Regions from separate parts of the Homo sapiens genome. Here region 2 is linked to region 1. Evidence: fine-mapped expression QTL. Tissue or cell type: whole blood. Region 1 holds a variant in brackets; the other region holds the start of a gene. All regions are shown on one strand. Distances are from middle to middle.

Region 1 (8,106 bases):
TGCTATGCTTTGCAGGCTCGTCCATAGACCATAAGCAACATGGGAACAGCCACAGTGCTGATCAGGACAGTAATATGGAAATGGAGGGCACGTCAGTGAGAGATTCTAGTAGATGCCAATTAGATATAGTCACTGAACCCCAAAGCTCCCTGATGTGGGGAGAAAAAGCATGTCTTTATAATTTAGGAAATGTTCTTAGTATGTGGTACCTGTTGAGGTCAACCTGGGCCATTAGTCACAAAGAAAAAAGGGGAGTTAATGACAGTGTCAAGTAAATGCCCCAAAGCAATAACCAGAGCCTGATGTAGTGTCAATCTTCTATCCCCTGAATGCTCTGTCAGTTTCCAGTAGCCTGAGTTTGGCCTCCCTCCTAGTGCTGACCTAGTCAGGGGCAGAGTGACTTTGTCATTCCATTCCCAGGCCTCTCCTCATTGCCTGAGCTAAAGTGTTGGTAGTCTTAAGTACATGCTTCCTCCAAGCCTGGGGTGTGTCACCTGTGAGGTGGAGATTAAGCTGACCCACCTGACCTGCATTCCAATTAGGTAAGGTAGCACTTGCTCTCCTCATAGCCTAAGGAACTGGCTTCTTTTCTCTACCTACTTGTTGCTAGGCCTGTAATGGCCTTAGAAGCCCATTCTTACATCCTCAGGGGATTTGTCAGGACCATACTAGAAACACACCCAATCTTGCCAAGGGCCCTTTTTTAATCTCTTAACCCAGCTCTCCTGGGAAACTGTTACTTGCAATAATTGGGAGCTGATAAATCTTATTTACAATAAAGCACCTCCAGTGATTTTAGGGCCTGGAGGCAGGGATTTTCTTCTTAGGAGTTCTCCTAATGCCTAATCCTAGGAACACTTTAGGGAGTGCAGGAAGGTAAGATGGTGTCACTAAACTCCTCTCTTTTGACATTTTTATTATTGCTAAGTATTTTTCATTAATTGATTAAGCGGTTCACTTATGAGCAAATACTTGTGAAAATTAACAATTCAAGGCAATTGCTAAATTCCAGTTGACTGATAAACACATTTATAGTTTAGGATTTAACACAAAGACTTTAAAAGGAGGTGATACAGATTGGGCCTTGAACTCTCTCCAGAGAGAAAACTTAGAGACAGGGGAGACAGTTGGGTGGTAACATGGTGGTTTGCTGGAGTTAGCTCAAGCTGTCTCTTACTGACTTGCTAGAGCCGACTGCACATTTCCCAGCTCCTTGTTCAGCAACATCACATTGGTAGCATGAACTTATCAGTGGTAGAAATATTTGCACCATGAAAATTAGTAACTGCTGGCTGGGCATGGTGGCTTACTCCTGTAATCTCAGCACTTTGGGAGGCCAAGGCGGGTGGATCACCTGAGGTCAGGAGTTCAAGACCAGCCTGGTCAACATGGTGAAACCCCGTGTCTACTAAAAATACAAAATTAGCCAGGCGTGGTGGTGGGTGCCTCTAATCCCAGCTACTCAGGAGGCTGGGGCAGGAGAAGTTTGAACCCGGGAGGCAGAGGTTGCAGTGAGCCAGGATTGTGCCACTGCACTCCAGCCTTGGCGACAAAAGCGAGACTCTGTCTCAAAAAAAAAAAAAAAAAAAGAAAAAGAAAAGAGAAAGAAAATTAGTAAATGTTACAAATCAGGGCTTTTTCACCCTGGAGAACCGGTTGTTAATATTTACTAGCACACCACTGGTGGTCAAGGAAGTAGAACACAAATGTAGAAATGGAAATGTAGAAATGGAGTTAAGACCAGGCTGGGTTCCCTCTTACAAAGGAGATTAAGGAATTTTCAGTTTATCCATTGACACTGAGGTATTGTTGATGACATTTTACTCGTTGGGATTATTTTGGTTACAAGCAATAGAAAGACTAAATTTGAAATGGCTCAAAAAATAAGAAAGATGCATTTATCCCATATAACAAGAATTTCAAGTTGGACCACTCTGGGATAGGTTAATTCAGCAGGGCACCAAAGACCCAGATTCTTTTAATATTTTTGCTCTGTCATCCTCAGTATGTCAGTCTGGCCTCTGACCAGCACAACATTTCCAAATCCAACAACTTTCAGCAGCAGAGGAAAATAATTTATTCTTTCTTTTCATCTCTTTGTAAGAGCAAAGAAGACTTTCCCAAAAGCCTCCAGCGGATTTTCTCACATCTCGAATTGGTCAGAACTCTATCACATGCCTAGATCAAGCACTGGCAAGGGGAAGGGAGCCCCATGATCCATTAGTGTTTCACCCGTGTTCCTCCCACTCAGCCCCCGCCCCCTCTACTGAGGCCAATCTCCCCTGAAGCCATGTACAGCAGGCTGGTTACTTGAACCTAATCAAGGTTCTATAGGCATGGAGGAAGAAGGAGGATGGACATTGGTTAAGCAACCAACATGTTTGCTAGAGTTTTTGAAAAGAGAGAAAACATCCATGAAATAATTTAGGAAGTGGCCGGGCATGGTGGCTCACACTTGTAATGTCAGCACTTTGGGCTCACGCTTGTAATCTCAGCACTTTGGGATGCCGAGGAGGGTGGATCACTTGAGGTCAGGAGTTCAAGACCATCCTGGCCAACATCTCTACTAAAAGTACAAAAATTAGCCACGCGTGGTGTCACGTGCCTGTAATCCCAGGTACTCTGGAGGCTGAGGCACGAGAATTGCTTGAACCCGGGAGGTGGAGGTTGCAGTGAGCCGAGATTGCACCACTGCACTCCAGCCTGGGTGACAGAGCCAGACTCCATCTCAAAAAAAAACAAAAAAAAAAAGAGAAAGAAAAAAAGAAATTTAGGAACCATAATCTTAGCACTGGTGTGCAAGCAGATAGAGGGCCTGGGATTAGGGAGGCTCAGCTATACTATTACAAGATACTAAATATGAAATAATAATCTACCAAAGCAATGCTTTCATTTGCCAAATGGCTGCCAATTCATTCATTCATTCATTCACTTAATAGATATTTAATAAATGACTGTCGTGGGTCAGATACTATGCTAGGTACTATACACAAAATGGTAAACTTAGCTAATGGAGTGTCAGAATCTGATGGGTGAAGTAAATATCAATCAAATAATCCACAAGTAAATGTAAATGTTTAACCTGGTTAAATGTTATCAAGAAACCCTGGATTTTTTTTTAATTGAGGCAAAATTCACATATAGTGATCTTAAGTATACAATTTGATGTCTGTGTGTAACAGCCATCCTTATCAAGACACAGAACATTCTCATCACCTCAGAAAGTTCCCTCATGTCCCTTCCTATTTGATCTTCACCTCCCTCTAATAGGTAACCACAGTTCTGATTTTTATCTTCAAGATTACGTTCGCCTGTTCCTGAATTTCACATAAATGGCTTTTTTTGCACCACAAATGAGTCCAAGATTCATTCATATTGTTGTGTTTAATGATCATTTGTTTTTTAAATTTGTACTCCATTGTAAGAACAATATAAGTAATTTTCTGTTGGTGAACATTTAAAATGTTCTAGTTTGGAGCTATTATGAATAAAGCTATAGTGAACATTCACGTATAAGTTTTTTGTGTACACATATATTTCATTTCTATTGGGTAAATTCCTAGGGAGTGGAATTACTAGGTTTTAGGGTAGGAATGTGTTTAACATTATGAAACTTCCCCTCATACAGCTTTTTTTTTTTTTTTTGAGACACTTTCTCTCTGTCACCCAGGCTGGAGTGCAGTGGTGCAATCATGGTTCCCTGAGCCTCGATCTCCCAGACTCAAGTGATCCTCCCACCTTAGCCTCCCTAGTAGCTGGGACCACAGGCATGCACCACCATGCCTGACTAATTTTTTTTTATTTTTGTAGAAATGGGATCTCCTTATATTGCCCAGGCTGGTCTCAAACTCCTGTGCTCAAGCCATTCTCCTGCCTTGGCCTCCCAAAGTGCTGGGATTTCAGGCAGGATCCACCATGCCTGGCTGAGCCCCTACTATATATATATATATATATATACACACACACACACACACACACACACATATATATACACACACATATATACGTATATATACGTATATATGTGTGTGTATATATATGTGTGTATATATGTGTGTGTATATATATGTGTGTGTGTGTGTGTGTGTGTGTGTATATATATAT[T/ATTTT]ATTTTTTTTTTTTTTTGAGACAGAGTCTCACTCTGTTGCCCGGCTGGAGTGCAGTGGCGCGATCTCGTCTCACTGCAAGCTCCGCCTCCCGAGTTCACGTCATTCTCCTGCTTCAGCCTCCCAAGTAGCTGGGACTACAGGCGCCCGCCACCTCGCCTGGCTAATTTTTTGTAGTTTTAGTAGAGACAGGGTTTCACCGGGTTAGCCAGGATGGTCTCAATCTCCTGACCTCATGATCCGCCTGCCTCAGCCTCCCAAAGTGCTGGTATTACAAGCGTGAGCCACTGCTCCCAGCCGAGCCCTAGATATTTTTTTAAAAAATATGGATTCATGGTCTTCAGTTCCAAGAAAGAATTCTGCGTCAGTCTGAGGTTCCTAGGCATGTATAATATGTAGTTTTTAAAAACTCCCCAGAACCAATGGTCTAAATTATATTGGTGGCGGTGGAAAGGAAGTTATTTTGGTTTGGTTTTCTTTTCCACCACAAAAGCATATAAATGTAAATAGTTTTTTTCCCTGCCTAGCTACAACCTTTCTCTGAACATTTTCCCCAACTCTAGCCATTAGCCCCAGTATTGAAATAGTCTCTCTTTTTAGTTTCTCTGGTGAAATGCAAAGCTCTGGTTTTTCTGCTCTTGCTTAAAGTGATGTAAAAGCTCAGGGAGCTCCTTGAAGCAGCCCTTAGAATTGCTAAGACGAGTAAACAAAAACAGATCTCTAGGGTGGAAAAGAACTTTGGACAGAATAGCAGTTGAGGGTGTGTGGCCCTGTGTACACCGGTAGGATTTTGTCTGGTGCTTTTACCTTTTTTCCCTTACTATTCTACCTAGCAGCAAGAAATAGTCAACTGTGTTCTGGCTGCTGCCAATGTCTACATTAAACAGCTGCCTCTGAGCATCCAACCTAGTGCCAGCCTAAATGGCTGCATATCACTAGAGAAGAAGCCTCTAGTTTCTACGCAGAGAAACTGAGACACAGGAATGGGAAGGGAGTCACTTAATGGATTAGGGACTGGTTGAGCTGGGACCAGAACCCAGGTGGCCTGGCTCCCAGCCCAGCTGACCACACTGCTACCCACACAGCCTGGGCTGACCAAAGACAAGCAGCCCATTGAGCAACTGCACAAACAACAATGAATGATGGATGGTCAGAGCAAGAAATAGGCACAAAGCAACTGTGACCCCATCACTTCCTGGCCCCTAAATTTCCAGGCAAGCCTATAAAGTGTGGTCACTTAAATGACTTTGACCAGCAACTTGGCCCAGCTTTCAAATCTGGAGACCTTCTATGGTCACTGCCAAAAGAAAAAGTCTTATATTGAGGGTAGAGTGCCTTTGAGCTCCACGCCTGGTTCTATTAAGTCTGTGGCAGTGGCGTTAAGATTAGAAAGACATATTTATATGGGTATAACCTGGTTCTGGACAGCTGTGGTGAAACAAGGCAACTTTCAGATTTTGAGGCTCCTCTTCTACAGATCTGTGCTCCCATCTCAGATTTAACTAGCAAAGGGTAGGTGTGGTCAGTGATTGTTGTCACAATCATTCCAGAATGTTTGTGTAGAGTTACTAGAATTTCAGTCTTTTCATTCTAAAGTATTTTCATCCCTCTCACCTTTCTAGAACGACACCCTTTTCAGCTCCTTTCCAACGGCTGTAGCCAACTGATTCTACCCCAGAGTCCCAAGCGTCCACCCCCGTACCCTTCCAGTTCAGTTCAGTTAGAGTTCAGTTAGAGTCAATTTAGGTGACCAAATCTCATCCTGCTCTCCTCCTTAAATTTACCACTAAACGGTAGCTAAAATTTGTGGTCCCTTATACGCTTGAAGCCCACGCCAAATGACTTTACTTGTCAACCTCTATTGTATGTCTTGGATATGCCCCCATGCAAGGCACTCTGACTTGTTTGGCCTTAGCATGTGTGGACAGCCTTGGGCCCAGCCCTAAATTTTCGATTGTAAACCCAGGTGTATCCCTAAGAGATATAGCTGTCTAGGAAGTTTCCCTGTTTCAGGTGTCAGTTTCCTATTCTGAGCTAGACAATTCTAAAATGCCTATGCCCCACGCCTCCCCTTTAGAAACTGAGGAAGAAGTGAGGGGAAAGAAAAGTTGACTAGAGTATTTGTTTTTACATAGGCATAATGGGCACAATTAGGCAATACATTATTTTGAATATGCAGACCAGGTGCTATAATGTTAGGAATCTGAATTAAAATTTCAAATGTCTTTTGTTAGAGTATAGCCGGGGTTGGCATCGTTTTGTGTTTGTCATAAAGAGGTATTTACTAAATGGCCTTTCTTTCTTGAAACAGTCCACACAGGCCTAATACTTATTCATTCATTCAACAAATATGGAAGGTCTACTATGTGACAAGGATGGCTTATTATGTTCTCATAGCCATAGCTCATTGTCACTCAGGTAGGACACATACAAGTTCTGCTACATATAATATAGTTTTATGTATTTTACTAAATTGTAAAACCTTTGATGTCTGGGATTATGTCTTGTTAATTTTTGTATCCCCCTGTATCACTGAGAGCAGTGATACACATCACAGGGATACAATACATATTTGAATTATGCCATAATGTTTTAAAAGACATAACAAACGCACTAGAAGACATAACAAACGCACTATGTAAGTTTTTTTTACTGTTAGCAGTCTAAAGCAGATGTATCAACAGGGTATCACTGTTATGCAAGTAAATAAATATTAAGTGTTTACAGAGAAGGATATGTTCACTTCAAGAGTGAAGGAACAAGAGAAATATATAATTGGGTGGAGACTGGTGTGGAAGAAGCTAATCTTCCTCCGGTCACTCCAGAATGATTGTGTAGAGTTACTAGAATGTCAGTCTTTTCATTCTGAAGTATTTTCATCTCTCTCACCTTTCTACAACTACTCCACCCCTTTCAGCTCCTTCCCAACGGCTGTAGCCAACTGATTCTACCCCAGAGTCCTAAGAGTCCACCCTGTACTCCTCCAACTCCTGTTCAAGAATGCTCCAGACCAGGAGCTTTAGGGACTCGGGTCGGGAAAACACGGGGTCACGCGCGGGGCAAGCGCCAAACTGGCCGCAGCCTGGGGAGCGGCGCTAAAGGCGGGGCTGCGACGGGGCGGAGCGGGAGGAGGCCCGGGGGCGGCCTGGGTGTCACCACCAACCCGCTCCGGCCGGAAACTGGCGCCTGTTTCCGGCCGGACAGCAGAAAGCCACCGATCCTGAACCAGCCGCCGGAGCCGGAGTGGCGACCGGGTGCGGAGTGGGCAAAAAGCCACTGGGGGAGGCCAGTCCCGATCAGTCCTTTCTGGCTCCAGCTCCAGATCCCGTGCGGAGCAACAGCTGCGGTCGCAGTCTCCACCACCGCCTCCACCTCCATCGCCGTCGGGGGAGGGGCCGGCCGGACCCCGGGGTCACTGCCGAGGAATGAAGAGAGGCGGCCGGGCCCCGCGCTCCGCCCCGGCCTAGGGCCTTGCCCCGGGAGCCCGCGAGGGTAACGGAGCCCCCCGTCCTGACACCGTCCCCCGTCTGCTCCCGCCCCTCCCGGCTTCTCAGACTCGCAAACTCTGCTCCTCAGATCGCCACTGTCCCCTTTCTCCTTTCTGAATCTGTTTCACCCGAAGCCATCTCCCCTCGGCACTCCTTTCTCGCCCTGACTGCTCCTTGCTTCGTCCCGATCTTTCCTCCTCCCTTTCACCTGCGTCCTGCGTTCCTACCCCGCGCTCTCCAGCTCCCGGCCTCCCTTCCTGAGCTGTGCTGGCCAGTTTGGACGGTCCCCCCTTGTCAGCTAGACTTTCGGGAGGGATGGTGGAGTTTTAAGGTGATTAAGATGCAGTGTATTATCCCCACAGTAGGATAAAGTTCATTTAAAATCTCAATATAATACTAAAATGAAAAGCAAATAAGCTTATTCTTCCTATTGATAGCCAAACTAAGGTGCATACAGTAATGGAGGAAAGGCGAGAAAAAGGTGTGTGTGTGTGTTTGTGTGTGTGTGTGAGAGAG
Region 2 (8,096 bases), 96 kb after region 1:
ACCAGCCTGGGCAACATGGTGAAACTCCGTCTCTACTAGAAATACCAAAAATTAGCCAGGTGCAGTGGTGGGCGCCTGTAATCCCAGCTACTCAGGAGGCTGAGACAGGAGAATCGCTTAAATCTGGTAGGTGGAGGTTGCAGTGAGCCGAGATCAAGCCATTGCACTCCAGCCTGGGCAACAAGAGCGAAACTGTCCCCCACCTCCCACCTTAAAAAAAGAAAAGTCCAGGAAAACTTCCTGGGAAAAAGGTGATACCTGCATTTAATCTTCAAGGAAGGATAGACCTTTCCCAGGCAAGGAGAAATTCAATCCAGGTGGATGGGATGTTTCTGAGGAGAAACAGATTGATAAATAGCATGGTGTATAATGCACTAGAGCTGTTTGGGATTGGAGGCAGGCTGAGGTCAGAGCCAGTTAGGGAGCTCCCAAAAACCATTTTTCAGCCCTTTTTCACATCATGGCAGGGAACCATTTGAAACAAAATTGAGGTAAGGGGAGGCAGCTGCTTCAGCCTGGAGGCTGTTGGCTCGGAAATTCTAGCTGCCCCAGTTTGATATGCTTATTAGATGTTCGTGTGGTGATATTGAATAGACAGAGATTTTGAGTCTGGGCTTGATGGGAAGGTCTGGACTGCAGATATAAATGGGAATCATCAGCATATAGGCAGTATTAAAGTCGGGACTGCCTGTGGTGAGCAAGAAGAGAGTAGAAGGCTTCCCGCCCCTGGGACTGAGCCCATAGGAACTCTAAAATTAAATGGCCCCAGCAAAGGGGACTACAAAGGAGTGGTTGGTGGGACAGGGCACTGGCACCTGGGGGAAAATGATGAGGTCTTCCCTCAGAACTTGAAAATATATACAGTCATTTGTGTATTCTCAAGGGATTGGTTCCAGGACCCTCCACAGATAATCAAAATTCACAAATGCTCAAATCTCTTATATAAAATGGCACATTTGCATATAACCTAGGCACATCCTCCAGTGTGTTTTAAATCATCTCTAGATTACTTGTGACACCTAATGCAGTGTAAATACTATGCAAGTAGTTGTTATACTGTATTGTTTAGGAAATAAATGTCAAGAGGAGAATGTCTATACATGTTCAGTACAAATGCAACCATCATAGGCCTAACTACATTTTCCATCCACAGTTGGTTGAATCCATGGATGCCAAACCCATGGATATGGAGGACTGATGGTATAAGTTTTCACTCTAAAAGTATGCAAGATTTCTATTTTAGCAAATAAGGTATCAGTGGAGAGTAGGCAAAGTCACCTTAAAGGGAAGAAATGGCTCCCTGCTGGCCAAATGCTCTCCTGCTGGACTTGGCTATAACCTAATTGAAAATGTTAACATATTTGGCTGGGTGCGGTGGCTCACGCCTGTAATCCCAGCACTTTGGGAGGCAGAGGTGAGTGGATCACTTGAGGTCCGGAGTTCGAGAGCAGCCTGGCCAACACGGTGAAACCCTGTCTCCATTAACAATACAAAAGTTAGCCAGGCGCAGTGGCTCACGCCTGTAATCCCAGCACTTTGGGAGGCTGAGGCGGGCGGATCACAAGGTCAGGAGATCGAGACCATCCTGGCTAACACAGTGAAACCCCGTCTCTCCTAAAAATACAAAAAATTAGCCGGGTGTGGTGGCGGGCACCTGTAGTCCCAGCTACTCGGGAGGCTGAGGCAGGAGAATGGCATGAACCCGGGAGGCGGAGCTTGCAGTGAGCCGAGATTGTGCCACTGCACTCCAGCCTGGGCGACGGAGCAAGACTCTGTCTCAAAAAAAAAAAAAAAAGTTAACTGGGTGTGGTGGCTCGTGCCTGTAGTCCCAGCTACTGGGAAGGCTGAGGCAGGAGAATCACTTGAACACCGGAGGTGGAGGTTACAGTGAGCTGAGATTGCGCCACTGCACTCCAGCCTGGGCGACAGAGTGAGACTCTGTCTCAAAAAAAAAAAAAAAAAGAAAAAGAATGTGTGTTAACCTGAAGACGGGTCAGCAATGAAAGTCTAGTAAAGGGAGAGTCCCTGAGGCCAGTCCAAGCACCATCCTGGAAAGCCGTCACATTCAGAGTAGTCCAGGAGTGCTGGCAAGGCTGCCAATAGCAAAGAGGTGGGGGTAGAAGATTGTTGCCAAGAAGAGTTTTCTGGACCCATTGGCATGGCTGCTTATTGCAGATGGCCAGATGCCATTAAAGATACAAATCCTCCAGTAATGTCATTGTGCATTTATACATTGACATTATGATTCTGATTTGGCTTCAGGGAGAGAATGTACTAGACATGTAGATATGAGTTTTCAGTCTGAGTGACAGTTAAATATTTATGATAAATTAATATTTATGTATTATGGCTTTATATTTCAGAAGATTGTGAACTTTGTTGGCATGAATGATTATTTCCAAGATCCAGCTTTGGAGTCTGCAAAGCCCAGGCCCGTGTCCCTGTCAGAGGTAAATTCAACCTGGCAAATGTTACCTGTGTGGTCTCTTCGGACATAGCCTGTCAGCCTTCTCCATGTATATATATCAGCATTCTGAAGCCTCCACATTTAGTAAGGCAGAATCACACGCTATTAGATCTGAGAGGGACCTGATGCAGTATCTAGTCCAAGCCCCCCTTTTCCAGATGAGAAACCTGAAGTTCACAGATGTGGAGAACTTGACCAAGAGTTGACAGCTTGTTAGCAGTGAGAACCCAGGTCCAAGCCCAGGTCAGTGCTGTCTGGAAGGTCCTGACCTTATCTGGCATAGACACATTCAGGATGTATTTCCCCAAATCACCATATTCCCTCTCACTCCTTCGGCAGGGATGGTCATCAAGTGTCACCAAGTGGCATGTCTTGGATCTCTGAGTCCAGGTTATTGATGCAAGAGCAAAGGAAAGATGAAGGGAAAAGCTGAAACAATTTACTTCTTCCTGCCCGGGAAGTACAAGTGTGTGGAGGGGAGGGGAGGGAGGTAGAGGAGAGTAAGAGAAAATGGAGAAGGGTATTGAGAGGATCCTTTTTGAGTCATTGGAGCAAATTAATGGAAGGGGAACTGTCCGGTTGGTCAGGTCTGTAAAAATCCCTCAACTTCCCCAGTACTTCTGCTACCACCAACTGAATGGACAGGATGAGGAGGTGTCCACTGTAAATAAGTAACCTGGACTGTTTTGTGAGGAAAGAGATGGAAGGAATCCAGGGGTCTCTGACTCTGGCAGTTCAGGATAGAAACCACACCTTGTTATCTCTGCTTTCTCTAAAATGTCCAGGTAAACTTGGAATAGGAGCACTCTGGATTTGGGAGACTGTTGTGAAAAAGGAGTTTGAGAGCAGTGGAGAAGGCAAGGGAGGTGTTTTGAAGGCAGCAAAAGCCCCTGAAATTATTGGGTCCTGCCATACTGAGACTGGGGTGCTAAGGAAGGGGCTGCCACATTCCCCATCTCCCTGTCTTCCCACTTGTCTTCCTAACATCACTGTTTTTTTCTTTAGTTCCTTCTATCTTTTACTAGGAAGGGCCTGGGAAGGGCTGGGTGCCATTTCCAGCTGTTCTTGTGACAACCTCCGGCCCTTTCATCATTTCTCCCCGTGCCCTGACTCCCTCCCCATCCTCTTTTCTCCTCTCCCCACCAATGGTCTCTCCCGATGCTCAGTGGCGCGGGGTAGGGGGGGGCGGAGGCGGGGCTGGAGTGGTGGAAGGGGGGTGGCAGGTCTGCATTGCCGCTTCCCTGGTGCCGGGAGCAGTCGCCGCTGCCGCCTCCGCCCGCGGCCGGGACCCCCGTCCTCGCCCGGGACTCCTTACCCGGGGAACCTAGACCAGGTGAGACCCCTTTCTCAGTCGCTCACCTCCTCCCCGCCCCTGGCAGAAGCATCTTTGCCTTGCCTTGCAGCCATTTTATCCTCCGATGCTTTGCTTATGGGGAGGGTGACGATCCCCTCTCTAGGGGTGAGGGGGGTTGGTGGGTTGGTGGTGGTTTGGGGATGGACATTTATTTCAGTTGTGCTCTTCAGGACACACACACACACACGCATATGTATAATATTGGTGAATGGGGAGGAGGGGTGTTTTTCTCTACCTTAACCAAGTCCCCACTATCCCCTTCGGAGATTAACGTGGTGGTGGGGTTGTGAGGTGGGATGAGGTTCCCTCAAACTCCTATCCCCTCCTCACCTTGACGTCCCCCCACCCCCAGGATGAATGATAAATGACCTTGGCTGGGGCTGGAGAATGGATGCTGCCTCAGTGTGCACGCCTGGACTTGGGTGGGTGGGGGGCAGGGGAAGAAGGGCAGGTGAAGGATGGAGGGAAGGGGAGTGAAGAATGGAAATACTGGGGAGACAGAGATGTAGAGCCGCCAGGTGTTGGGGGCATGGATGGCGGGGGCTGGCGGCAGTTGCTCCGGGGTGGGGGGAAGGGATGTTGAGTGAAGGTGGACACTTGTCTAGCAGCAGGACCAAGGGTGGAGGAGGTGCTCAGAGCAGGGATTTAGTCAGTTCTGGGGGCTTTTCCCTTATTCCGGAGCTGAGGCAAGATGGGGTGTGGGGGGGTCGCTGCAAATGCTGATAGGGGCGGTCTCTATGTCTGTGCATGCGGAGGTCTCTCCCTGCGTCCCCCTCTCTGCCTCTCCGTATTCCTCAGTGTGCATTCTCAGCTGACACCCTCATTTTTATCCCTCAGAACTGTGGGTGCTCCTATCTTCCTAACCTTGGTAGGATGTGGGGAGGGGAGGCGCAGTCTTGATGGTCCTGGGTGGGGGCTGAAGTTCGATGACCGGGCTGTCATGGGGAAGGGGTGCTCCCGCACCTCCCACATTCTACCCCCGCCCCCGCGGACGTTTTGATAAGTGATTGCTTTTTAATGACCTTGTCACCTGAGCTAGGAAGGCCTGGGGATCTGGGTGGACCCCAAAGTCAGGGGCTTTGACTGGGAGGGTGGGGGGTTCTGGACCCAGGGCTGGATGAGCTGTTCTGAAAGAAAGCATTTGCTCTGGAGTCCCCTGCCTGTCTCCACCCTCTGCAGAAAATCTCCTGGGCACATTTTTTCCTGTCAGGTGAAGTCAGCCAGCCTAGGACCTTGTAACCCTGAACCTTGTCTCCTTTAACCTCCACCTCTCCAAGTCTTGTCTCACTCCCCCAGGCTTAGCCACCCTGTGCTGTTTTGGGGGCTAAAAATAGCACCACTTCCTCACCAGCTCAAAGAATTTGTCTTCTTTCTTTCTCTCCTGACCTCCTGGGCTTGCTGGCCCTGAGGAAGCTGGCTGTTGAGACCTCATATCCTGCTGTGGTTGTGGAAGGCTTCCCTGCCCTACGTGCCCCTCTCAGGGGGAAATAGGGTCAACAAACATAGAGTATGGCTCCTGGTGGGTCCTGCCTCCTTCAGGGCTGGAGGGGAGATCCTGGTTAGGAAAGAGAGGAAAGCTAGCAAATTGCCATGCGCTGAGGGGATTCCGCAGTTCCAGCTCTTTCATGGGGGATGGTTGGGCCCTGAACCATGAAGAAAAGGTGACATAGGGGTCACTGCTTCTGGTCACCGTGGTCCACTGCTTACATCTGTCCTGAGGGGATAAGGCGCTGCTTGCCAGTGCTTCTCTCTGAACCACATAGCATTGCTTACCGTCTTCTACCAGGGCGTGTGTGTGTGTGTGCGTGTGTGTGTGTGTGTGTGTGTTTTAATGAAGGCCCTGGATGGGTGGGAGCACCGGAGGCAGGATATTTTTAGGGGGATGATTTCTGATCAGAATCTAGGCCTGCTTCCTCTGCTCCTATGAAGGAAGGGGGCTATCCCATGCCTTCCTCTGGAGAATGTCTTTTTTGGGGGGACACCCAAACCCCCTTTATTCTACATCCGCCTCCTACGCAATGCGGTGTTTGTGGACTCCTTCTTCCTTGACTCCTGGAGGAGGAGCAGAAAGGATTAAGGGGGATTAGGAAGGGAGGCCCTGGAGGGATGGGATGCAACTGTAGGCCTTAGAACCTCATGTTGGAAATGTATGCATTTGACAGTCATTTCCATTCTCACCCCCATCTGTGGAAAGGGGGCCTATCTATGACATTCTGAAGCAAGGTGGCAGTGGACAGTCATCACCTCTTTCTTAGCTTTCCATCTTTCCTCCACTTTACTTGGGTTCCAGGTCCCCCTTTTCTGGATCTTCCCTTGTTCTTCTGGAGGTAGTTAATGTGGGCCCAGCTACTGGAATTAGTTGAAACATAGATAGGGGTGTCTTGGGACTCTGTTTGCAAGGATGCTGGGCAACAGCATCTAAGTATGACCCCCCTGTTGTCCCTTGCTGCTTCCTGTTTCTTTCCCACTTTCAACATCATAGGAAGGAAGAAAACTAACATAGAGTATCTACTGTGAGATTACATTCTCACATCAACTCCAAGAAACAGTCTCCCAATTTAATTATCCCCAGTTAAAATAGATGGACACTGAGGCTTAGGGAGGTTAACTACCCTGACTGAGATCAGTTAGTAAGTGGCAGAGTTGGGATTTCAACTTAGGTCACCCCTAACAGTCATGTGCTTTGCCCTGAACCAGGATTCTCCTTGCCAGTGTCCCTTCCTGCTGCTCACCCTAAAGAGCATCCAAGATAGCTTTCATCTGGGGACCTTATGAGGTAGTATAGGGCATTTCACTATATTACTGTCACCACAAAATTAATAATTAATATTTATTCATCATTTTTATGTGCCAGGTGACTTATGGTAAGGAGCATAGATACATTATATCATTCGACCCTTACTTTCCCCTTTTTAAACAAGAAGAAACTGAGGCTTGGTCCCTTAGCTAGTATTTGCCAAAACAGGAAGTCAACCCCATGTCTTTGTGACTCTGGAAGCTGAGCATTTACCCATTAGACTATGTTGAGAGAAAATCCCTCCTTGTTGAAGCCTGTAAACATGGGACCTGAGGGAAGGACAGTGGAAGCCCCTGCCTTCAGATGCCATCAGAGGAGGGAAGGCCACAGGTTGGAGGGCTTGTCCTCTTACACATCCTCCTCAACTCCACCCCTAGTAAGAAACCCAGGCAAGACTAAAGAAGGGAATTCTGGTTTCTCATATTTCCTGTTTAGTTCTTTGCAGATTGGTGATAAAGCAAGGGCTGGGGTGGGTTTGGGGGTAGGTGACTGCGACTTTGGAGCAAATTCCACAGGCCAGGCCTCCAAGGTCAAAGTAAGGGGACTTCTATGTGAGTGACCCGGTTAGCCCAGATAGCCATCCCTTTTTAGTGTGTGGATGGGAGCCTAAAGCGAGAAGACCATCTCTGCACCACATGGTCCAGATGGGGCTCTGGGTTGAGAGGCTTTATACTGGCCTTCTTCACCACCTTAGGACTCACAACTTCCTTTTGCTGTCTGTTATTTTTTCTAGGTCTCCAGAGGCTTGTGGAAGAGAAGCAGGCGACCCTTCCTGAGTTATCCTGGCTTAGCCTCCCAATCTGGCTCCCCTTCCCCTTCCCATTCCCCTGCTCCCCCTGTCCCTTCCCCATCCACCCAACTGAACTGGGTATAGGTCAAAGCTCCTCTCCTTCCTTTTCCTTCCTAGGCACTCATTGGCTAGGACCTGTTTGCTCTTTTTTTTGTGCCCAGAGATACTGGAACACGCTTCATCTAAGTAACTGTGGGGAGGGGTCTTTTTGACTCTACAAGTCCTTGAGCAAAAAGCTGAAAAAGAAGCAGGAGGTGGAGAAGACCCAGTGAAGTGCCCCAAGCCCCATCATGGAAGAGGGCTTCCGAGACCGGGCAGCTTTCATCCGTGGGGCCAAAGACATTGCTAAGGAAGTCAAAAAGCATGCGGCCAAGAAGGTGGTGAAGGGCCTGGACAGAGTCCAGGACGAATATTCCCGAAGATCGTACTCCCGCTTTGAGGAGGAGGATGATGATGATGACTTCCCTGCTCCCAGTGATGGTTATTACCGAGGAGAAGGGACCCAGGATGAGGAGGAAGGTGGTGCATCCAGTGATGCTACTGAGGGCCATGACGAGGATGATGAGATCTATGAAGGGGAATATCAGGGCATTCCCCGGGCAGAGTCTGGGGGCAAAGGCGAGCGGATGGCAGATGGGGCGCCCCTGGCTGGAGTAAGGGGGGGCTTGAGTGATGGGGAGGGTCCCCC

What was found. PIP is the estimated chance that this variant, and not a neighbour inherited with it, causes the effect.
Region 2: SV2A starts here. The variant in region 1 is fine-mapped to the expression of SV2A in whole blood (INTERVAL, PIP 0.94).

What each region holds. Positions count from the first base shown.
Region 1 is chr1:150,009,936-150,018,041 of GRCh38, reverse strand. OTUD7B (OTU deubiquitinase 7B) reads left to right here and starts at 7,316. Exons shown (of 12, transcript NM_020205.4): 1 at 7,316-7,594. It overlaps LOC124904413 (a long non-coding RNA gene), which reads right to left and starts at 5,579. Exons shown (of 3, transcript XR_007066598.1): 1 at 5,517-5,579. RefSeq lists enhancers at 1-251, 252-911, 7,689-8,106 and silencers at 7,155-7,204, 7,465-7,754. The variant T/ATTTT (reference allele first, on the strand shown) is at 4,105.
Region 2 is chr1:149,913,443-149,921,538 of GRCh38, reverse strand. SV2A (synaptic vesicle glycoprotein 2A) reads left to right here and starts at 3,695. Exons shown (of 13, transcript NM_014849.5): 1 at 3,695-3,800; 2 at 7,352-8,096. The coding sequence starts at 7,699. RefSeq lists a silencer at 3,782-3,851.